4 linked regions of the Homo sapiens genome follow. The protein of the gene in region 1 purifies or fractionates together with the protein of each later gene. This does not show direct contact. Each region holds a gene or a part of one and is shown in the gene's direction. Other genes may lie near its edges.

The links.
Region 2: the proteins of ZNF460 (region 1) and ZBTB10 purify together in Homo sapiens (co-immunoprecipitation; 2 studies listed by BioGRID and IntAct, with this or other methods). This does not show direct contact.
Region 3: the proteins of ZNF460 (region 1) and ZMYM4 purify together in Homo sapiens (co-immunoprecipitation; 2 studies listed by BioGRID and IntAct, with this or other methods). This does not show direct contact.
Region 4: the proteins of ZNF460 (region 1) and SMARCAD1 purify together in Homo sapiens (affinity purification with mass spectrometry; 2 studies listed by BioGRID and IntAct, with this or other methods). This does not show direct contact.

What each region holds. Positions count from the first base shown.
Region 1 is NC_000019.10:57,275,944-57,283,495, forward strand, and holds the start of ZNF460 (zinc finger protein 460), read left to right. Parts: upstream 1-4,541; 5' UTR 4,542-4,863; coding exon 4,864-4,893; intron 4,894-7,552. UniProt on the Homo sapiens protein: May be involved in transcriptional regulation.
Region 2 is NC_000008.11:80,524,220-80,526,799, forward strand, and holds the end of ZBTB10 (zinc finger and BTB domain-containing protein 10), read left to right. Parts: 3' UTR 1-2,046; downstream 2,047-2,580. UniProt on the Homo sapiens protein: May be involved in transcriptional regulation.
Region 3 is NC_000001.11:35,383,691-35,390,730, forward strand, and holds part of ZMYM4 (zinc finger MYM-type protein 4), read left to right. Parts: intron 1-1,751; coding exon 1,752-1,902; intron 1,903-2,383; coding exon 2,384-2,499; intron 2,500-3,312; coding exon 3,313-3,588; intron 3,589-3,763; coding exon 3,764-3,914; intron 3,915-5,219; coding exon 5,220-5,392; intron 5,393-6,257; coding exon 6,258-6,408; intron 6,409-7,040. UniProt on the Homo sapiens protein: Plays a role in the regulation of cell morphology and cytoskeletal organization.
Region 4 is NC_000004.12:94,210,830-94,217,869, forward strand, and holds part of SMARCAD1 (SWI/SNF-related matrix-associated actin-dependent regulator of chromatin subfamily A containing DEAD/H box 1), read left to right. Parts: intron 1-2,205; exon of another isoform or gene 2,206-2,323; intron 2,324-2,908; exon of another isoform or gene 2,909-2,941; intron 2,942-7,040. UniProt on the Homo sapiens protein: DNA helicase that possesses intrinsic ATP-dependent nucleosome-remodeling activity and is both required for DNA repair and heterochromatin organization.

The sequences.
Region 1 (7,552 bases):
CAGCCTCCCGAGTAGCTGGGGCTATAGGCACCCGCCACCACGCCCAGCTAATTTTTTTGTATTTTTAGTAGAGACGGGGTTTCACCATGTTGGCCAGGCTGGTCTCGAATTCCTGACCTCAGGTGATCTGCCCTCCTTGGCCTTCCAGAGTGTTGGGATTACAGGCGTGAGCCACCACACCTGGCCTATCCACTTTTAATTAAGCTAACTTTTAACCATAGTGCTCTTTAAAAAAGAAATCCTTTCAAATCTCTTATTACCCAACTTTAGCCATGCCAAGAAGCCAATATTTCTAACTTCTGAACTTTACCAAAGGTTATCTCCTACGTGCATAGAGAAAGGAAAATTTAAGACAGTCTGCGGAGGAGAAGAGACTAGACAAGGTCACGCAGATATTAAACCAGAAATGACTTACTTCCTAGGTGGGGTATCAAACCCAAACTGCCACTGTGAAAGTGCAGAAACCTTAGTTACTGAGCTACAGTGTGGGACGGTGCCTACTTCCTTTCACAGAAGCCTAGAGTAGTTAATTTTGAGCTTGCAAAGGCTTTTAACTATTTTATATGATTTTTAGAGCTGACTATGACATGAACCCTAAAATTCCTTTTCCCTAGTAGGTGGAGACCAAGAGAAGGTACTGCCACATGGTTAAAAGGTCAGGCTCCCAAGGACATAAAACAAGGGGAGACTTCATCCTGTTTGTTTGTTTCAGGGACCTGCAGCTGTTTGTTACTGACCAGTTTGCTGGGTCATGTTGAAAAGTGGGCTCACAGGTGTTCTAAGCCCATGTTTCATCCTACAGAAAAACAAATTCACAGCACAAAATACACCAGTTTGACTAGCTTAGAATTCTTTTTCATATTAATCAAAACTTTACAGAGGAGATACACACTGATTTATTATTTTTATTATTGTTATTATTTTTACCATTCATTCAACCGTTTGCACAGAGAGGGAGAAGTCAGAAATCTGACTGGTAACAAATTCTTACCTTTTTGCTGGCATGCCAGGCTTCTGTGTTCCCTTTCTCTGAGTGGTCCCAGTGATCTGGCTTGTGGCACCATCGCCCTGGGGGCCAAGCCTCATTGTAAAGGAAAACTACTTTTTTTCATTCTGACCAGAGCAAAACACATGTGATGAAACATACACATTAGCCACTCTGCTTAGCACCCAATATTAAACTGGCAAGGCTTAAATTTGCCCCCAGATAGGCCCTGTCATCTTTAATCCAACCTCTGACTTGGAGTTTCAACATGTGGTCTCTGGGCAAGATGGTCGCCCTGAGTAATAGAGTAATAGAAAAGATAAGAAAGGGGCCGGGCGCAGTGGCTCACGCCTGTAATCCCAGCACTTCAGGAGGCCGAGGCGGGCAGATCACAAGGTCAGGAGATCGAGACCATCCTGGCTAAGATGGTGAAACCCCGTCTCTACTAAAAATACAAAAAATTAGCCGGGCATGGTTGCAAGCGCCTGTAGTCCCAGCTACTCGGGAGGCTGAGGCAGGAGAATGGCCTGAACCCGGGAGGTGGAGCTTGCAGTGAGCAGAGATAGCGCCACTGCACTCCAGCCTGGGCGACAGAGCGAGACTCCGTCTCAAAAAAAAAAAAAAAATTATATATGGAAATGCTTTCGCAGGCAATACTTTCCCAGGAAATATTTTCCACAAGCAATACTTTCCCAGGGAAGGCAAAATGATCAGGGAGGCCAGAGAAAGACCCACCCATTGCAGTGACACTGAAAAGTTCAGGCGGCTACGGCTGCTGTCGTGAAGGGATTTTTTTCCAGCAGTCCCGTCAGCTCTCAAGTTTCCCCTTTTGGGGGAGGAAAAAGCTCCCCATGTCCCACGATCCTGTACACGCCTAACCCTGTCGCCCGGAGCCATCAGCAAAGAGTGCAAGGCAGATTAATCCAAAGACAATAGCAGTTAACATCCCACGGTGCCAAACCTCTTCTTAGCCAAGAGGGACTTTACTGAGAGGGGTCTCTAACCCCCTAAATCTTAGAAGGGACTCTAATCCTCCTAAGTTGGGCCTCTAACCCAAGGTCAGTCAAGCGTCCTTGCCTTTTATTAAGAGGGGCCTCTAATCCACTCTGCCTTAGGAGAGACTCTAACTCCCCTAACTTGAGCGTCTATCCCAATCCCATTCTTTACCTGGGTACCCCACCACTTACCCAAAGTCATCCAATCAGTGCTGCAGTCTATTTCCTTTGAGTCAGGGGGGTCTCCTCAGCATTGTCCCTTTTGTGGTTTGCGAGAAAAGTGTTACCCGACCCCACCACTTACCCAAAGTTAGCCTTTGGGTCACGGGTTCCTGCAGTATAGTCTCTTCTGTAGTGGCCAGGAATGTGTTACAGGAAAGGGGTCCCAATCCATATCCCAAGAGAGGGTTCTTGGATCTCGCACAAGAAATAATTCAGGGCGAGTCCACAGTGCAAGTGAAAGCAAGTTTATTAAGAAAGTAAAGGAATAAAGAATGGCTACTCCATAGACAGAGCAGCCCCAAGGGTTGCTGGGTGCCCATGTTTATGGTTATTTCTTAGTGACTTGCTAAACAAGGGGTGGATTGTTCATGCCTCCCCTTTTCAGACCACATAGGGTAACTCCCTGACATTGCCATGGCATTTGTAAACTGTCGTGGCACTGATGGGAGTGTAGCAGTGAGGAAGACCAGAGGTCACTCTTGTCACCATTTTGGTTTTGGTGGTTTTGGCCAGCTCCTTTACTGCAACCTGTTTTATCAGCAAGGTCTTTATGATCCGTATTTTGTGCTGACCTCCTATCTCATCCTGTGACTCAGAATGCCTTAACTGTCTGGGAATGCAGCCTAGTAGGTTTTAGCTTCATTTTACCCAGCTCCTATTTAAGATAGAGTTGCTCTGGTTCATATGCCTCTGAAAAAACCATTTAAATTTAATTATAAGAGTCTGGCCAGAGGGGGTGGCTCACGTCTGTAATCCTAGCACTTTGGGAGGCCGAGGTGGGTGGATCACCTGAGGTCGGGAGTTTGAGACCAGCCTGAACAACATGGAAGAACCCTGTCTCTACTAAAAATATAAAATTAGCCAGGCGTGGTGGCGCACACCTGTAATCCCAGCTACTCAGGAGGCTGAGGCAGGAGAATCGCTTGAACCCGGGAGGCGGAGGTTGCAGTGAGTGGAGACTGTGCCACTGCTCTCCAGCCTGGGCAACAAGAGTGAAACTCCATCTCAAAAAAAAAAAAAAAAAAAAAAAATTTAAGAGTCACAAATATGTGAAAAAGAGAATGATGTCTTTATCAATTTTCAAAAATTACTATTGCCAGTGATGAATAACAGTGTTCCTTGCACACTAATTTAGCCAAAAATATTTCTCCAAAAGTACCGCATCGTGTAGGAAATTGACTCCATCTCCATTCCTTGACTATTTTCAATCTCAAAATTAAATCTCTTGGAGAGTACTTTCTGCACACCTTTCTATTTCCTTAACCATATATATCGTCAAACCATTGAAAGCTGGACTTTATTCTCTCACTTTCATAGTCATGAAAAGAAAAAAAAAAAGTTACTGATGGGGACTCCTAAGACTTCGCATAATATAATCTTTGCATAGTCTAGGATTGTTAAAATTCCTAACAAGACTTTATAAACTCTCCTGTCTGCAACCAGTTAATGCTGGGTTGGGCCAGGGTTCCCCTCTTTCCCGTCACTTATCCATCTACGCTCATTCTTTTCATAGCCTCACCCAATATCATGACTTGAAGTAACAGTTTACAGTAATAACTCCCAAATTTATATATCCACGCTCGAACCCTCTGCCAATGTTGAATCATAGGTTGAGTATATGGCACTACGCTTTGTGGTCTTACTGACGTTTCAAACTGATCATGCTTGAAATGGGAGTACTGGGCTTCCCGGCAAGCCTGCTCCACTAGCAGCCTCCCCACCTCAGGGTACGGGAAGTCCACACGTGGCGAACGCGAAGCCTATTACATCACCCGGAAGTCCCTGCATCCTACGAAGGCTGGGCCCGGCCAAAGGAGGCCCAATAGAGGGCGGTCTGTCCTTTCCCAGCAGGCTGGGCACACTGTCAGGCGTCCTCCTTTGGGTGGCTATTTTAACTGCTCATTTATCCTTTTCTTCTATGAAAAGATCCAGAAAAGAGGCAAAGCAAGCGAGAAGTCGCGGGCCCAGCCCACAGCAGGGTAAGCACCTTTGTTCGGGGTCTGAATCGGGGCGAATATCCCCGCCTCCTGACCTCGATTTTCCTGAGCTAGAAGGGACCTTTCGACCCTCCGACTTGTGCCTATACTAAGGCGGTGGCCCTAAGACGACGCGGGGGTTCTGGTGCGCACTTACGTGCAGTCGGATGCGCTGGGTGAGTTCCCACACCCGGTAGATGTAAGGGAAAAACTGCATTACCCAGAAGGCACTGCCCCTTGCGTCGGCCGCGGACTCTGGGCCATTGACGACCCAGGACAGGAGAGTTTTCTGCGGGCCAGGGCGGCGGAGGCGGGACTTCCGCTTCTTCGTGTGACGTCATCTCCGTGGGCCGGTTTGGCCCTGAAACAGTGTGGGGCCTAGAGCGCTGGGTGGGCGCGTTCTGCGGCCTGAGCAGGGACGGGTAGTGAAGCGGTTACGCCCCTTCTTCGCGTCTTGGCGGGAGCCTGACGCCCCGCTTCTCCCCTAACGAGGTGTCCCACCGGCGCCCGCCGAGGCCTAGGCCTCCGCAGCCGCCCTCCGTCTCCTCAGCCCCGACGCTGCGCCTTGGGCCTTGTGCGCATTTTTTTCGGGGGAAAACTGAGGCTCGGAGTGCGAAAGTCAGCCGAGGTCGCCCCGCCCAGGACAGAGAAGGGCTGTGGTCGGCTGATCCGCGGCATTCCCGGGATGGCGGCGGCGTGGATGGCTCCGGCGCAGGTGAGTGGACGAGGTTTCGGCCTTGCTGCTGCTGTGCTATTTCTAGAGGCCTCGTGGGCAGGCTGGAAGCCAAGACAGCCACAGGATTTTTCTTTGTCGCCATCGTTTATTTAAGAGAAATGGCCGTGGCTTGTCATTTCCTTTATCCGCAGTCCTGCAACAGTGTTGGCCTCTGATAGGTGTTCAGTCCGTGGTTGAAGGAGTGATGCTTCCTTCTAGGGATCTCATCACACTTCCCCTAAATCCAACCTTCTCTGTTGCCTGCCAGCCCGTACCCCATCCACCTGGCCAACCACCCCTGACCTTGTCTGTTTGCATTTTTCCCTGGTCCTTTGCTCTTCAGAGCCACCAACCTGACCGTGCAGTCCTCTTCCATTTTCCAGGCTTTCTCCTTGCACTTCCTTTTACTTCGAACACTGCCCCTGTAACTTTGCAGGGCCTCCCTTTCACATCCTTTTGGCATCTGTCCAGGTGTCACCTATTTGGAGGTGCCTTTTTTGGCAATTCCGGCTAAAGTGGCACCTTACACCCTTGCCCAGAGTCTGGTATTTTTGTGTAGATAATCTGATGGTATTAAAGAAGCTTGTGGATTTGAGTTTGTCAAGGATGTAATGGGAACAAAGAAAAATAATTGCAAAGAATGATATTAACTGTCATTGAGTCCTTGCTGTGGGCTGATCGGTGAGTATTATTTAACCCTCAGTTCGTTTAACCCTGAAATTTTTTTTTTTTTTTTTTTTTTTTTTTGAGACGGAGTCTTGTTCTGTCGCCCAGGCTGGAGTGCAGTGGCGTGACCTCGGCTCACTGCAACCTCCGCCTTTTGGGTTCAAGCGATTCTCCTGCCTCAGCCTCCTGAGTAGCTGGGACTACAGGTGTGCGCCACCACGCCTGGCTAATTTTTGTATTTTTAGTAGAGACGGGGTTTTACCGTGTTGGCCACGCTGGTCTTGAACTCCTGACCTCAGGTGATCCACCCATCTGGGTCTCCCAAAGTGCTGGGATTACTCTTTAGAATTAGGTTCTGTTGTCATCATTGTTTTACACAAGAGCAATTTGAGGGTCACATACGTCCAATTACCTGCCTTACATCACTGTAGCTCTTAAGTTTCTTAAGTCAGAAACTAACAACTGGTGTGTCTAACATCATAGCCTGTGTTTTTACCCTCTTCTTTACCCGCAGTGGTTAGGGAGGCCTGGGGGTGAGACCTAAAGTAACCTTTGCAAGATGAGGCCTCCTTCTAGCCAGTGATCTTGGGCATGAGGAGTCATGGCCTTTCATACTGGTGGAACTGTGTAGACTTAAAAAATGGTATATTGGTTGTTTAAGGAGTTCTCAGGGGACCTGTGTGGCTTCCACGGTGGTTTTATATGTGGTTCCCCTTACTCCCTTACCTGCTGACATATTCTGAGAGGGCACGTTTGTATGGTTATGTTGCTGAATGTACCCTCCTACTCAGCCAGGATAGATGTAATCTCCAGATGGGCCCATATTGTCTTGGCTACAACCTGCTGTGCCCTCTATGACTCTTGTTGCTTGCTCATGGAATCTTCTGGCCTCAGGGATGCCTGCTAGTAGGACTTAGGTAGAAAAGGAAGCGATGGCTCATTGTGAATTCTCCCTGGAAGCAGGTCCAGGCCCTAACACCTGATCAGGTGTCACCACGTCAGGTGATTCTTTGGTGAGGTGGATGATGATGACTACACTTCTCTGCCCTTGTCCATGGGAGTGGCTGAAATGTATATGTGGATTTGAAATGCTTCATTCTCATTAACTGCATTAACTTTGCTAATAGAGAAATGTCAGGTTACATAATCAGACCAGAGGGCCCTGGGCTTAAATCCTGCCTCTGTTGATAAGACCTGTGACTTTGGGCTGGGCTTGGTGGCTCACACCTGTAAACCCTGCACTTTGGGAGGCTGAGGTAGGTGGACTGCTTGAGCCCAGGAGTTCAAGACCAGCCTGGGCAACATGGGAAAACCCTGTCTCTACAAAAAGTACAAAAAATTAGACCGGCATGGCATCATGTGCCTGTAGTCCCAGCTGTGCAGGAGGCTGAGGTGGGAGGATCACTAGATCACAGGAGGTCAGGGTTGCAGTGAGCCGACATTGTGCCACTGCATTCCAGCCTGGGTGACAGAGTGAGACCATCTAAAAAAAAAAAAAAGAGAGAGACATGAACACATGAGACTTTGGGTAGACTGGTAGAGCGGAGGGTAGGACTGAGGCCCAGGTCTCAGGTCCCTGAGTGTGACATAGAGATGATGATGGTAAATTCAGATGCTGTGGCCTTTGCCTCAGTGTTTGTTTGTTTTTTTTTTTTTTTACAAACAGTTTTTCTTTCTTTCTTTGTTTTGATGGAGTCTAGCTCTGTTGCCAGGCTGGAGTTCAGTGGTGCGATCTCGGCTCACTGCAACCATCGCCTCCGACGTTCAAGCGATTCTCCTGCTTCAGCCTCCCGAGTAGCTAGGACTACAGGCACACACTACCACACCCAGCTAATTTTTGTATTTTTAGTAGAGATGGGGTTTCACCTTGCTAGCCAGGATGGTCTCAATTTCCTGACCTCATGATCTGCTCACCTCAGCCTCCGAAACTGCTGGGATTACAGGCATGAGTCACCGTGCCCAGCCTACAAACAGTTTTTCTTTAGTTCTTTTG
Region 2 (2,580 bases), on another chromosome or scaffold:
ACTATAAGGGTTTTTTGTTTATTTGTATGTTTTTATATGAAAGTACATAAATGACAGACTACCTCCAAGTAATCCTGCTTTAATTAATAGCAGTGATTTGTAATCAGTGTATCTTTTAAGATTCTCTACAGGTTTTAGAAAATATTAAAAATTCCCTGTAATTTACATTTGTGCATAATCTTGGAAATGGGTTGAAAAGCAAAGGTAAACTGCTTCATCCCATGTTGTATATTTGTGGACTGATTGACTACAAGTGATGTGATGTTATAAATTTGAAGTCTTTGAAACTTTATTAATGTAGAGAAAACATAACTAGCTTTTTAGGTTATTTCAAAGTTAGTAATAGAGCAAAGGAAATCAGAACTGGCCAGATATTCAGACTTGACTTAGAAAAACAGGAGTTTGTTGATTTTGTTTGGAGAAGGGCACAATAAAGGGGAGCCCACATAGCATTATAATGCCTAGTATCTTTAAACATGTAAAGAGCTATCATGAGGCAGAAGAATTAAGAAACTTTATATGTTTCTAAGGGGTCATGATTGGGACCATTGGCTCAAGATTGAAAATCGGTTTTTAATTATCCAAAGATGAAATGGGGCTGCTTCAGAAAAAGGTCTACCACTGGAGATAACGCTATGAAAAGTGAAAGAGATTACTTAATCATTTTGACAAAGGCAGTATTGACCAGACATTTCTATTTCAGAGTTGGATTTGTGCTTAGTTTTTTTTAGGTGTTGGGACCCTTGTAGTTGCTTTTTATTTTGCTTAGTCAACAAACACTAAAATGATAAAATTTGGTATGTATAAGTACTGGACGAAGGATGTTTTGACACTAAAAAGGACATAATTTAGGAAATTAAGAATTTAGACACCAAGTTTGGCTTAATAGAAAAAGTCACTATCTGAACTTCTTTCTTTTTCACCACAAATCACCGCAGACCAGTGTTTGGGAGCAGGTGTAGGAAATTGAATTATTGGATCTATGTTTAGGTAAGAAAACTAAAGGTACTTCAGAATTTAGGCTATGACATAACTGTCTTTCTGAAGTTTAAAGAAAGAAAGTGAACTATAGAAATCTATTCAGCTAATTAAAGTGAATGAAAAATATTACAGATTCCATAACTGCATGGCGCCTTACCTGCTATTAATACTGCCGCCTTACTGTCAGCCAGATGATTTTTTCCCACCACGGCCAGTCTTAAATTTGGCAATAAGAAAAAGCTAATCTTCCAAGTGTAAGTAGGTATGTGTTAGAATCTTGGTGAAAGATAAACACAAGACAGTCTTCTTGGCGCAGGTCCTAACAGTTGGTGAGATAATACATAAGATGGTTTCAGGATTATTGTAGAATTATTTAGGTTGAAAGAGACTGTAAGAGACTAATGAAGCATACCCAGAGAGGTTGCTACAGTGACTCCAGTCAGTTTTAGGACCCAGGACTCCTGAACTTCAATTTCAGTATTATTTTTCTGTACCAAACTCATTCAATAAATACTTGAGATTAGGGATAAGTTTGAAGTTAGAAGATTCCAGAGTACACTCAAATAGTATTTGGCACATAGCTTGTTGATCAAAAGTATTTACTAAGTGAGTGACAAAAGGCACTAGCAACTTTAAGGATTTTGCCTATTAGTATCATATGGCATGTAGCTATCAAGCCAGTTTCGTTTAGTTATTTTGTGTTGCCAAGCATATGATACGTGGTGTCACACTGAGCCTTTGGGATCCTTTCCCTGGATACATAACCCTAGTAGATAATGTTACTGCAAGATGTAATGACCAAATCCAACCTACTGCAAATGTTACTATGGAAATCTCAATGCAAAAGTAGCCTTTGTGATTTTTTTTTTAAACCGTCTCCATAACAGAACACTTAGAATTATTAGCCATTTGCTGCAAAGTATTTGTTTTAAAATGTCTGGCATATACACCACTAACATTTAAATGCCCAACATTCGGTCTATACGTGAAAAAACTAGAAGAAAAGCCCTGTTGGAGTTTTGATGTAGAGTGCAATAATACATCAATAAAGGTATTTTAAAATGACCTAATGTTTTAGTTGCCAACATGATTTTTGTATTTGTAAAGAGGTATGTTGGGTTTTGGCATTTATATTTTACCGTATGAAAGACATATTCATGTAAAAGGTAATGTGAAGCTTAGCATCTCTTGTCAACCTGTCCCCTGTTTCCAAGTAGTCTCCTTGGATATTTGTAGCATCTGGATTCCTAATAATCCAGATAATTAGGATTATGGCATTTATGTACAGACATGGGTAATTCTCCAAAGCAGATCTTCCCACACTAATTTTTCAAGTACTTGTCACCTAAATCATTAATAAAATGTGCCAATTCCAAATAATAGCAAATGTAGGAATTGAATCAGCATCCCAGAGTACTAGTCCTGGGCCATATCCTCATTAGGCAAAGGAAATTTGAAGAAGTTATTTTAGGACTTTACCTAAGGTGAAGTCTAGAATTTTACATATGTAGGTATGTTTTTGTTAGTCTTATATTTGCCTAAAAGTTATACGTTTTATTATTTCATAGGCGTAAATATGTTTTTATTAAAATCTTAGAT
Region 3 (7,040 bases), on another chromosome or scaffold:
AAATAGGATGAAACATCTTAATTTTAAATTTATTCTTTACTTTTAATTTAGTCAAAACCTATTAAATTTTTCATGTATTATATCTGCTGTGGTAGAGAAAGAACTGGAATTTAGAAGTAAGGCAGATCTACATTTAATTCTAGACCTTATGTTCAAATACAGTTTTACCTTGGGGAAAGCAGTTAAGCTCCCTGAGTCCCAGTTTTTCTGTCTGTAAATAACTATGATACCACCTATGTCACTGGGATGTTTTTAGGATTATAGAAAGTAAGAATGAAAGAATGCCTAGTATGTAACTGAGGCATTGTAGATGGTCATTTCTGCTACCTTCCTTTCTTCCTTATATATAATTCATTCAACAAACATTAGATATAATTTCTGTTTTGAGGGGCTGCCTGTCTCCTGAGAAAGATAAGACGTATAAATGAGTAAATAGAGATGCTATGATGGAAGTATTATGGGTACAGTGGGCCACAGAGGTAGCATAGTGAGCTCTACTTGATAGGGAAAGATGAGACTATCAGCAGAAGCTTCACAGAGGTAACTCTTGATCTGGGTCTTACAAATGAGGTTTGCTTTTACAGTCCTCATTAGGGAGGAGAGGGAAATGGGGTTAGAGATTTAGAAGACATTCCAGAATTCAGGCATATATTCACTTTACTGTGTATTTATTTTAATATCAAGTTTTACAAATTGATTCTTTAAGAAGGAAGATTGCTCTTAAAATCTCCTAATTGGTGCTGGACGTACTTTAAAAATTATCCTGAATGTGTGACATGTTAATAATACTTAGCATTATTTGCTGCTGAATCCCTAATTGGGTGAAGACTTAAGATAACGGACTCTGGTTGTTTGTATTTGGACACCTGTGATGATATCCCAGGTTTGCTCTTACTTTACGCTTATGGAGTATTTTTTTTATTATTAGTGGTAGAATATTTGCCAATAAGTTGCCTAATAAGGTTACTAATTTCCTTAAATTCATATTTACAAGCACCTTTGGAGGGGGTTATTTCAATTTATAGGATGATATAGTATAAAAGCATGAACTTGCTGTTATTTAATGTTTTTAAAACTGTGGTTATGACCTATTAATAGACCCTGAAATTAATTACTAGGTTATAACCAGCATTATTATTTTTTTCTTTTTCTTTTTTTTTTTTTTTTTTGAGGTGGAATCTTCTCATTCTGTCGCCAGGCTGGAGTGCAGTGGCACGATCTCAGCTCGCTGCAAGCTCTGCCTCCTGGTTCACGCCATTCTCCTGCCTCAGCCTCCTGAATAGCTGGGACTACAGGCGCCTGCCACTATGCCTGGCTAATTTTTTTTGTATTTTTGTAGAGGCAGGGTTTCACCATGTTGACCTTGCTGGTCTTGAACTCCTGACCTCAGGTGATCCACCCACCTCGGCCTCCCGATGTGCTGGGATTATAGGGGTGAGCCACTACGCCTGGCCGCATTACTTTTTCAATGAAATAGAATAGATTGGAAAATATCAAAGTGCATTACATGTTATCATGATATTTATTCCTCTATAAAACTTTTTAGTTTTATTACATACATGCATCATACACAAATGCAAAATCTCAGAAGTACATGTGTACCATGAAACTTCCTATTGAGGATTACAATCATAAAAGTTTGAAAATCACTGATTTCAAATATTTCAAAAGTGTTGAGTATAAACATTTCGAAGAATTATGCTTTTACTAGGAATTTGTTAAAAATGAATGTTGTTTTATTCTCTTAATAGAAATCAGCCAAAATTACACCGTGTGCGCTTTGCAAATCATTGAGATCCTCAGCAGAAATGATTGAAAATACCAATAGCTTGGGGAAGACAGAGCTTTTCTGTTCTGTTAATTGCTTATCTGCTTACAGAGTTAAAATGGTTACTTCTGCAGGTAATATTGGTTTCACAAACTATGAAATGCAATGGTTGAAAAATAATGGTTATTGCTTTGTTTTTAACGGTTTTTTTTGGTTGATTTTTAAGGCACATTTAACATATTTCAGATATTTGTTGTAAAATATCACCTGTTACCTTGATTGCTTATTTATTTACTTGCATACCTATTTATGCATTTCCCCCTTACCAAAAGAATTTCATATGGCTTCTTTAATATATTTTCTTTTTCCCTACCTAATTTCTTTGAAGTTTCATTTATCTGGTAGTTTCAGGGTAGACTTTGACCAATTTAAATTGGAAAGAAACATTTTCAGTATTATGTTAGTTTTTGTCTATATGTGACATGATTTAGTTTCAGTTCCTACAACTTACCCTGGCTCTTAAATTTTCTTATATTGTATAGTATTATTTAATTTCTCATACTTTTGTGTACATTTGTACATATTACTCATTGGTTTTTATTTTGATTTGCTAAGGTGTACAAGTTCAGTGTAACAGTTGTAAAACCTCAGCAATTCCTCAGTATCACCTAGCCATGTCAGATGGAAGTATACGCAACTTCTGCAGCTACAGCTGTGTGGTAGCTTTCCAGGTATGGCTTCAGGAACCTTCCTCTTCTTCAGTCAGTGAGTCACCTACTGTATGAGTCTGTTCTTGCACTCCTCTAAAGAAATACCCTAGACTGGGTAATTTATAAAGAAAGAGGTTTAATTGGCTCACAGTTCCACAGGCTGTACAGGTAGCATGGCTGGAGAGGCCTCAGGAAACTTTCAATTATGGCGGAAGGCGAAGGGGAAGCCGGCACGTCTTACATGATGGGCTCAAGAGGAAGAGAGAGAAGCGGGAGGTGCTACACTTTTAAACAACCAGATAGTGAGAACTCACTATCACCAGAACAGCAGGGGAGAAATCCACCCCCATGATCCAGTCACTTCCTGCCAGGCTCCTCCCCCAACATTGGGGATTACCGACTGGACATGAGATTTGGGCAGGGACACGAATTCAAACCTATCACCTACTATAGTAATGCACATTTATTAGGTGTTTGCTAGGGCCTGGGTTGTATAAGTTTCTATATCATTCCTATTAAACTTGGATTTGTAGTTCATTCTGTATTTGGAATTTAATTTAACTGCCTTCTATAAAATTGAATGGTACTTTTATCACCCATATTATCTATTGGGAGGATATTATTTTTGAGGAAGATTATTAGTTAAGTTATTTTATTTTTTCATCATAAATGAGACTCCCCCCATTCCGTAATAAGCTGCTCAGAGGCAGGAACATTGCCTGTTAACAGATGTACCTTACATGCCTAGAACGGTGCTTGGCATATGTAGGCACACAATACTTCTTTGTTTTAACAAAGATTAAATTGATACTTTTTGTTGTTTTGTTTTTCCAGAATTTATTCAACAAACCAACTGGAATGAATTCTTCAGTAGTGCCCTTGTCTCAGGGCCAAGTAATTGTAAGCATCCCCACAGGTTCCACAGTGTCAGCCGGAGGAGGTAGCACATCTGCTGTTTCTCCCACCTCCATCAGTAGCTCTGCTGCAGCTGGTCTCCAGCGTCTCGCTGCCCAGTCCCAGCATGTTGGGTTTGCACGAAGTGTTGTGAAACTCAAATGTCAACACTGTAACCGTCTTTTTGCCACAAAACCAGAACTTCTTGACTATAAGGTAAAGTATAGCATGTTCATGATAAGATTTTGAGTATACGTGGGTCTATTTGTAAAATTATTTTTAACTTTGCATCTCTCAAAATCATACCATTTGTTTTGAAAGTAAGGGAGATAAGGAGTTCCATAAGACAAACCAAATGTTTAATTAGTACTTAATGATTATTTCTTTGCAGGGCAAAATGTTTCAGTTCTGTGGCAAGAATTGTTCTGATGAATATAAGAAAATAAATAATGTAATGGCAATGTGTGAATATTGTAAAATTGAGAAAATTGTAAAGGAGACTGTTCGGTTCTCAGGTGCTGACAAGTCATTCTGTAGTGAAGGTAAAGACAGAAGATTATCTTACCTACTGAGCATGTTGGTTGTTTTAAAGCAGTTGATGATGATTTAAGCTTTCACTGTCTAAGTTAATCTGTTTTATTGTTTATGTATAACGTAAATGCCTTTTCGATTCATTTACACTTAGTTCATTCTTTTTTGATCTAGTTTTCTTATATTATGTAGCTGTTAAAATGAAGTGAAAGATTTGCAAAGTATAATGCAGAAGAAGATGATGTGAAAAACATTTAACATCCTTAGGTTCCCCATTATTAGGTTGATCGGGACCTCAAAGAGCTTCTAGTTCGTGTACTTATTTCTAAATGGGATGCCTTAAATTATGGTAACATTCTAAGTTTATACTTTTATTGTCTTAAACAGCCATTATATTTCTGAATATAAATGGCTTGAATATGCAAATTAATATGTGGAAGATTGTTTTCCTTAGATAACTCTTCTATATGTTTATAATGTTTTATTTTACTCTAAAGCTGTATTAGCCTTCTAGAGCAAGGGCTTTCAAACCTTTTGATAACACCAAAGAAGAAATACATTTACACTGTGACCCAGTATATTTTCACATACCTAAATAAAAGTTTTTTTTGTTTTTGTTTTTGTTTTTTGAGACAGAGTCTTGCTTTGTCACCCAGGCTGGAATGCCATGGAGCGATCTTGGCTCACTGCAACCTCTGCCTCCTGGGTTCAAGCGATTCTCCTGCCTCAACCTCCCGAGTAGCTGGGACTACAGGCACCCGCCACCACACCTGGCTAATTTTTGTATTTTTAGTAGAGACAGGGCTTCACCATGTTGGCCAGGCTGGTCTCCAACTCCTGACCTCAGGTGATCCACCCACTTTGGCCTCCCAGAGTGCTGGGATTACAGGTGTGAGCCACTACGCCCAGCCCCAAAAGTTTCATGAAATAAAATCGATGCAGTTTAATATTTTCTCTTCTGTGCTATCCTGTCTTATATCATTTAAAACAAAAACAAAAACAAAGCAAAACAAAAACTAGTATAGATACTCTAAAAAATCAAGATACTCTGTGAACTGGTCAGGACCCAAGTGTGAAAACTTTGTCCTAGACCACTTATTTTTCTTTTTTTTGTTTTTGTTTTTATTTGACATGGGGTCTTGCCATGTTGCCCAGGCTGGTCTCAAACTCCTGGGCTCAAGCACTCCTCCCGCCAGCCTCCCAAAGTGTTGGGATTACAGGTGTGAGCCACTGCACCGGGCCTGTCCTAGGCCATTTAAAGTTGCAGAAAACTAATACTTCTACCTAATGTTAATTTTATCTTTCCTGATTTTTAGGTTGCAAATTGCTTTATAAACATGACTTGGCAAAACGCTGGGGAAATCACTGTAAAATGTGCAGTTATTGTTTACAGACATCTCCCAAATTGGTACAGAATAATTTAGGAGGGAAAGTGGAAGAGTTCTGTTGTGAAGAATGCATGTCCAAATATACAGTTTTGTTCTATCAGGTAAATAGAATTCACATTCCTGGGTTTTTCATTCTAGGGCATAAATTATTCCCTTTTAAAATTTCATGTCACATAAAGGACAATTTAATTATTTAAAACTTTTAAGTATTAAATGTTTTATGCCTTCTAGCAATTAATATAAGATTTAGAAAGACTTTAATGTTATTGAAGTTTTCTTTTGTTTTTAATTTCCTGTAGGAGACATATCAGTCTTAAGACATTAAAATATTTAAACTTATAATTTTATTCACTTATTATTTAAATAAAGTGAATTTGTCTTCTGAAGTCTGAGGAAGATAGACCTTATTTTTATTTCACTTTGTTTTTTAATTGCTATAGAGTGAAGTCTGTATGTTACATGTGTTTTTTAAAAAAAATTAGTATAAAATCAGCTGGGCGCGGTGGCTCACGCCTGTAATCCCAGCACTTTGGGAGGCCGAGGCGGGTGGATCATGAGGTTAGGAGATCGAGACCATCCTGGCTAACATGGTGAAACCCCGTCTCTACTAAAAATACAAAAAAATTAGCTGGGTGTGGTGGCGGGCGCCTGTAGTCCCAGCTACCTGGGAGGCTGAGGCAGGAGAATTGCATGAACCCAGGAGGTGGAGCTTGCAGTGAGCTGAGATCACGCCACTGCACTCCAGCCTGGGCGATAGAGCAAGGCTCTGTCTCAAAAAAAAAAAAAAATATATATATATATGTGTGTGTGTGTGTGTGTGTGTGTGTATAATCATTGATAAAGACAAACTAATTTTTTGATCTAAATTCTAAGTTAATTTCGTCACTTGTTATGTGTGTCTTATTTTTATTTTGTCAGACCACAGATAATTTGTTTCTTACTCCTTGACTACCTTCTTCTTTTTAGATGGCCAAATGTGATGCTTGTAAGCGACAGGGTAAACTCAGTGAGTCCTTGAAATGGCGAGGGGAAATGAAACATTTCTGTAACCTGCTTTGTATCTTGATGTTCTGTAATCAGCAAAGTGTATGTGACCCGCCTTCACAAAATAATGCAGGTAAAATTAACCTTAGGTACTGAATGGAGTCTTTGGTCAATACTAGGAACTACTGTTCTTTTACAGATCAGGAACTGTGTAAACAGTTGTCATTAATTTCATGAAACCTCAGTTTCCTTGTATTCTGTATCAATAACATTTAGCTTTTTTTGTTGAACACCTTATTTCACTGTCGTCCGTGTGAAGAGACCACCAAACAGGCTTTGTGTGAGCAACAAGGCTGTTTATTTCACCTGGGTGCAGGCGGTCTGAGTCTGAAAAGAGTCAGTGAAGGGAGATGGGGTGGGGCCGTTTTATAAGATTTGGGTAGGTAAAGGAAAAAGGGGGGTTGTTCTCTGGCGAGCAGGAGTGGGGGTCACAAAGTGCTCAGTGGGGGAGCTTTTTGAGCCAGGATGAGCCAGGAAAAGGAATTTCACAAGGTAATGTCATCAGTTAAGGCAGGAACAGGCCATTTTCACTTCTTTTGTGTTGGAATGTCATCAGTTAAGGCAGGAACCGGCCATCTGGATGTGTACCTGCAGGTCAGAGGGGATATGATGGCTTAGCTTGGGCTCAGAGGCCTGACACCTTAGATTAAAGCTGAGTAAAAATGAGTTTTTGATTAAATAGATTTCTTTGAGAATATTGAATCA
Region 4 (7,040 bases), on another chromosome or scaffold:
AGGCTGAGGCACAAGAATTGCTTGAACCTGGGAGGCAGAGGTTGCAGTGAGCCTAGATCACACCACTGCACTCCAGCCTGGGGGACAGAGACTGTATCTCAAAAAAAAAAAAAAAAAAAAAGGTAAATGTCTTTAAGAATTCAAATAAGAATCGAAGGTCTGGCTGGGCACAGTGGATCACCCCTGTAATCCCAGCACTTTGGGAGGCTGAGGCGGGCTGATCAGCTGAGGTTGGAAGTTCAAGACCAGCCTGACCAACATGGAGAAACCCCGTTTCTACTAAAAATATAAAATTAGCTGGGCATGGTGGTACATGCCTGTAATCCCAGCTACTCGGGAGGCTGAAGCAGGAGAATCACTTGAACCCTGGAGGTGGAGGTTGCAGTGAGCCGAGATTGTGCCATTGCACTCCAGCCTGGGCAACAAGAGCAAAACTCCATGTCAAAATAAATAAATAAATAAGAATAAAAATCAAAGGTCCTGCCCCCAAGTGCTAATTTAGCCTGGGGTCTAGGGATTGCTGAGGAAGTGGGGATTCAGAATTGAGTGTTGGATCTCTGGAGAGGACAAGATACTGAAGTTAGATTTTAAGGTCAGGACTGGAGATGAAAATTGGTGAATTATAAATAGGATGTGACTATTGACCTTACTTCTTTATCATGTGGTAACTTTTCATACTCCCATTGTGGGATAATGCTGCGTTAGTTTATTTACAGTAAAGTGTCAGGTCAAACTAAGTCAGCTTACAGGACAGAAATTGTATGTAGTCAAAATTACCTGTAATCACTCTTTTTGACTAATCCTGTTATTTTATCTAGTGAGTTGACTTCATTTCCTATGACCCTCCTTCAGTTACTGTGCCACCACCACATTGTTTCTTGAATCTTTCAAGCAAGGTCCCATCTTTGCTTCTTCCAATTTGCTTTTTTGCCTGGAAGACTCTTCCTGCTGATATTTGCATATGACTCAGATGCTTTGTTTCATTAAATCTCAGTAAAATGTCACCTTTTTAAGAAGACCTTCCTTGATCACCCTGTGAAATAGCCACCCACCCCAGCCCACCCTACCCCAGCTTTACTGTTATTTTTCTTCATAGTATTTATCACTAGCTAACCTTTCATTATGTAGTTGTGTATCACTAGCTAACATTACATTATATAGTTGTGACTCCCTTGTTAGAACATATGATTCATGAGAGCAGGACCTTATCTGTTGTGTTCACCTATTTATCTCCATTGTTCAGGGCAACGACTGGCTTGTCGTAGGCCCTCAATAAGTGCATTGAAGTAAATATTATTGCATGATGAGTGGGCATTATTAGTACTTTATACATTTTTTAAAATTTATTTATTATTTATTTGTTTTTAGACAATCTCACTGTGTGGCCCAGGCTAGAGTGCAGTGGCAGAATCTTGGCTCACTGCAACCTCTACCTCCTGGGTTCAAGTGATTCTCATACCTCAGCCTCCCGAGGAGCTGCGACTACAGGCTCATGCCACCATGCCCGGCTAATTTTTGTATTTTCTGTAGAGACGGCATTTCGCTATGTTGACCAGGCTAGTGTCAAACTCCTGACGTCAAGTGATCCACGTGCCTTGGCCTCTGAAAGTGCTAGGATTATAGGCATGAGCCACCACGCCCAGCCCTATACATATTTATTTATTATTATTTTTTTGAGATGGAGTCTTGCTCTGTTACCTAGGCTGGAGTGCAGTGGCACAATCTCGGCTCACTGCAACCTCTGCCTCCTGGGTTCAAGCAATTCTCCTGCCTCAGCCTCCCAAGTAGCTGAGACTACAGGTGCACACCACCACAGCCGGCTAATTTTTGTATTTTTAGTAGAGACAGGGTTTCACCATGTTAGCCAGGCTAGTCTCAAACTCCTGACTTCAGGCTATCTGCCTGCCTTGGCCTCCCAAAGTGCTGGGATTACAGACATGAGCCACCACACCTTTATTTTAAAATAGGACCTTAAAATAGTCCCTTTAGCCATCAGGTGTTCTTTGGCCATGGTTGCTTGAAGCTTCTTTTGGTACAGGACATCCTCCCTAATGCCCCTCTAAATCCCAGCCAGCCTTTGGATTTGAGGGCATACACTTAACCTCTGCCCCCTGATTTATTTTACTCTTCTCGGTGCCCAAAGTTGTCAATGATTGTTATTTACACATTATTTCTCCTTTTTTTCTTTGACTTTTGGGAGTACAGTGAGTTTGGAGGGATTGAAATAATGGCAGGTGAAAGGGAAGAGAGATCCTACTATATTTTATGAATAAAGAATAAAAATGAGTGAAGCCTGATCCTCCAAGAGCACCAGGAGAAAATGGTATGTAAATATATAGTTAAAATAGTATGGTGTGATAAAACCATATAATAGGGCAAAATACTAAGCAAAGTAGAATCACTATCTGTAATTCACAAATGATTGAATTATCCATTCTTCAGGGGAGGATCACAAAAAGTCACAGAGATATGACCTTTGGAGTGGACTCTAAACAATGAAATCATTGTTTACTGGGTGAACAAATGATGAGAGAGTTGAAAATATATGTTGCCTCCAAGAGTCTAATATGTGTGTGGAGGGTTGGGGGCAGATTATAGAACAGGAGGTTTTAGACAATATAGATGAAACTGAAAAGATAGAAGTGTAAACCATTGGGTTGTGAGGGGCCTTTATATCCTGTGTCAGGGACGGTAGATCTTATTTGGTACACATCATAGAGCATTTCATTATGGAAATGCTATTAGTGAAGCTGTTGTATTCATTGAAGCCTCAATGTAGGGAAATGACTGTAGAGATGACAGAGGAGGCAACTGAGGGGAGTTGTAAATGATACGCATTTGATGATATTAGGTGATCAGTTGAATGTGGAGGATTTACAGATAACTCAAATGTTCCTTGCTTGGACAGCTGGAGGATTGACACCATGGACTGAATTAAGAGGTGAGTTTAGGAGAAAGATACTAAAAATTATGTTGTGTTTGCATTACCCATCCTATTTTAGTACCAAGGTAGTAGATGGTTGAATATTAGAGCTCAGAGAGTGGTCTAAACCCTAGAACTTGGGACTCATCAATGTCCTAAGCAGGGTGTACAATAAAAAACATCATTTGACAATGGGCAGGAAAACCAATGAAAAATTTGAAGGATGACTAGAATAGTCATAGAAAATGATAGTGTCCTGGATACCTAAATACCTAGTTTGGTATTTAGTTGTCTAGTAACAAATCCTGTAGAGAAGTCAAGTTGAGTGGGGACTGATCAGTGACCAGTTTCCTTGGAATTAAAAGTAACTACTAACCTTTAACAGTTTCAGTAGAATGGTGATGAGATAGAGATTATTCATTCAGGAAAGGAAAGAGAGAAATAGGTAACCTGATTGGGAAGTAATGTCAAGAAAATATGTTTCAGGATTATTGAAAATTGAGCGTTCTTTTGTTTTTTTTTTTTTTTTTGAGACAGTTTCACTCTGTCACCCAGGCTGGAGTGCAGTGGCGCAATCTCAACTCACTGCAATCTCTGCTCTCGGGTTCATGCCATTCTTCTGCTTCAGCCTCCTGAGTAGCTGGGACTACAGGTGCCCGCCACCACGCCGGGCTAATTTTTTTTTTTTGTATTTTTAGTAGAGACCCGGTTTCACCGTATTAGCCAGGATGGTCTCAATCTCCTGACTTGAGATCTGCCCGCCTCGGCCTCCTAAAGTGCTGGGATTACAGGCATGAGCCACCGCACCTGGCCAAGCGTTTGTTAACCAAGGACAAGAAGCTAGTGGAGAGGGAAGGACTGAGGGAGGGAGGTATCTGAAGAGAGGCATCAAGTGATGAGAACTGAAGAACAGTTGGACTGTTTAACTGTGCAAAAGAATAAAGACATATTTTCCCTGGGGGGGATAATTGAAGGAGATAAAAATAGATGGGTTCATAGATTATTTTGGCATTGGCGGAATGGAGGAAAGTTTTAGTATATGTTTGATGAATTTTTTTTTTTTTGCTGAAATAGATTTAGTCCTCTAGAGTGGTTGCCTTTTCAAGGTGGTTGTCATATTGAAAGTAGCACTTGTTGATAAGTGAGAGACATTTTTAAAACTATACCAGTCGTCAGAAAGATTTCCTGAGAGTATTGCTCTGCCACATACAGATTGTATGATCTTGAGTAAAAAGTCAACTGTTTGGGTCTTACAGTCTTCTCCTGGCTTTGCTTAGTTTTCTGTATTCCTTGCCCACATTAAAATGGTTATTATCCTTTGAATGATGATACTGAATGTATCATTTTAGCTTCATAATTCCGTGACCATTGCGCAATACTCAGTCTTTTTGTAGGTGTCTGTGGCCAAAATGTGAGCCATCGTTAAACCTGTAGATAGTCATTGTGGTTTCTTAATGTCTGTTAATGTTAATTGAAAAGCAATACTTAGTTAAAGGGTTAGTGCTGAATTGTTGTAACAGAAAGTACAATAAGTACTCAAAAGTAAGTAGGAATCTTAAGTGCATTTTAAATGTGCATGTATTTGGCTGGGCACAGTGGCTCATGCCTGTAGAGTCGCAGCACTTTGGGAGGCCGAGGCAGGAGGATTGCTTGAGACCAGGAGTTCAAGACCAGCTTGGGCAATGTAGTGAGACCCTGTCTCTACAAAAAATGAAAAAATTAGTCAGGTGTGGTGGTGTGCACCTGTAGTCCTAGCCACTTGGGAGGTTGAGACAGAAGAATTGATTGAGCCCAGGAGTTTGAGGTTATGGTAAGCTGTGATCACTACACTACATTCCAGCCTGGGCAACAGAGTGAGATTCTGTCCCAAAAAGGGGGGTGGGGGGGAGGAGGGGGATAGAAATATTATTTTAGTCATTGTCACTTCACCCTACACACAAATTTCACTAGTTTGTATCAGACTACATCTTGGTTTTGATGTCTGCTTTTTCATACCTGTCTAAAATATTGCAGACCTTTATTATCTTTAATAAGCTAATAGGCAAAAGTATGTTATTGTTGCTTTTTCTTTATTTTTTAGTTTAAGTATGTTTTCATAAATTTACTAGCCATTTGGATTTTTTGTGTTTCTTTATGCTTTTCTGTTTTTCTAATACATGTCTCTCCGATAAATTATTTGTAAGTATATCTTAAATTCCACGTGTCTTAGTCTGTTAGAACTGCTGTAACTACCATGAACCGGGTAGCTTATAAGCAATAGAAATCTACTCTTGGCAATTCTGGAGGCTGGGAAGTCCAAAATCAAGGTGCTGCAAGATTAGGTATCTCAGGGCCCTATTCCTAGACCACAATCTTTTAACCCCATGTGGCTGAATGAGTGAGGGGTCTCTTGGGCCTCTTTTATAAGGGCACTAATCCCATTCATGAGTGCTCTGCCCCCATCACCTAATACCCCTTCCTCCCTCCAGCAAATGTCACCTCCTAATACCATTACCATAATGGTTAAGATTTCAACATACCGTTTTGGGGAGTGGGGCACAAACAGACCATAGCACCCCCTTTGTTGTTTGCCATAGAAAAATTTTAGATTTTTATGTGGTCACCTTGTTCATCCTTTCCTCTAAGTCTTCTGCATTCCGCATTACCACACTATAAATATACTCATTCATATTTTCCTCTAGTATGTCTGTTAATTTTAAAAATTATGATAAAATACACATAAGAAAATTTACCATCTCAACCATTTTTAAGTGTACAGTTCAGTACATTCAGTTCAATACATATACATTGTCATGCAACTATTCTCCAGCACTCTTTTCATCTTGTGAAACTGAAACTCTTTATGCATTGAACAACTACTCCTCATTTCTGATTCCCCCAGCCCCCGGCAACTACCGTTTACGTTGTCTTTTTATGAATTTGACTATTCTAAGTATCTCATTAAAGTGGAATCATCACTTAGCATAACATCCCCAGGATCCATCCATGTTGTAGCATATATCAGAATTTCCTTCCTTTTTAAGACTGAATAATATTTCACTGTGTGTATATACACATTTTGTTTATCCATTCATCCATCAATGGGCACTTGGATTGCCTCCACATCTTGGCTGTTTGAATTGTATTGCAGTAAACATGAATGTGTAAATATTCTCTTTGAAACCCTGCTTTCAGTTCTTTTGGTTGTATACCCAGAAGTGGTATTGCTGGATCATATAGTAATTCTATTTTTAATTTTTTGCGGAACCTCCATACCGTTTTCCATAGGTGCTCCACCATTTTACATTTCTGCCAACAGTGTGGTGGGTTCCAGTTTCTCCACATCCTCTCCAACCTTGTTATTTCCTGTGTTTTTGATAATAGCCAACATAATGGACATGAGTTTGTATCTCACTTTGGGTTTCGTGTTGATTTTTAACTTTAAATCTCCTCTGAATTTTATTTCATTATAGGGACTAAAGAAAGGGTGATATCGTTTTCTCCTTTGTTCATTATTCACCAGTTACTAGTCAGTTTTTCATTTATTGAAAAATCCTTTTTCTTACATTAAAATGTCATCATTATAGTCTAAAATTCCCATGTTTGTTTGCATCTTTGGGTCTGTTAATCTGTTCCTCTAATCTTAATTTACCAGATTATTTTAATTTTTATAGTGTCATATATATGATGTATCCTAGATTTTGATGTGTTTTTGTTGTTGTTGTTTTCTCTTTGACCTGAAAGTTGTTTAGAAGCCATTTTTATGAGGTTTTGTCTCTTTTTAAAAAATTTCCAACTGGCAGAAATTTTGCTTGCATATTTTTGTTAACATTTACTTCTAATTTCACTGTTTTGTGACCAGAGAATGTGGTCTGTAGTATTTCTTCTTTGGGGGAAATTAACTCAGATTTTCTTTGTGGCCTAATATTTAATTTCTGTAAAAATTCAAGGGTGCTTGGAAAGAAAACATAATCTAAGTACAGATTTAATTATATGTCGAATAATAGATGAGTTTTATTATATCTTTGTTTTTCAAACTGGATCATAAACATTTATTGTGTCATAAAATCAATTTCTTGGGTCCTGACTAAATATGTATAACTACAATTTTTAATGGAGTAGAACAAATAGAAAATTA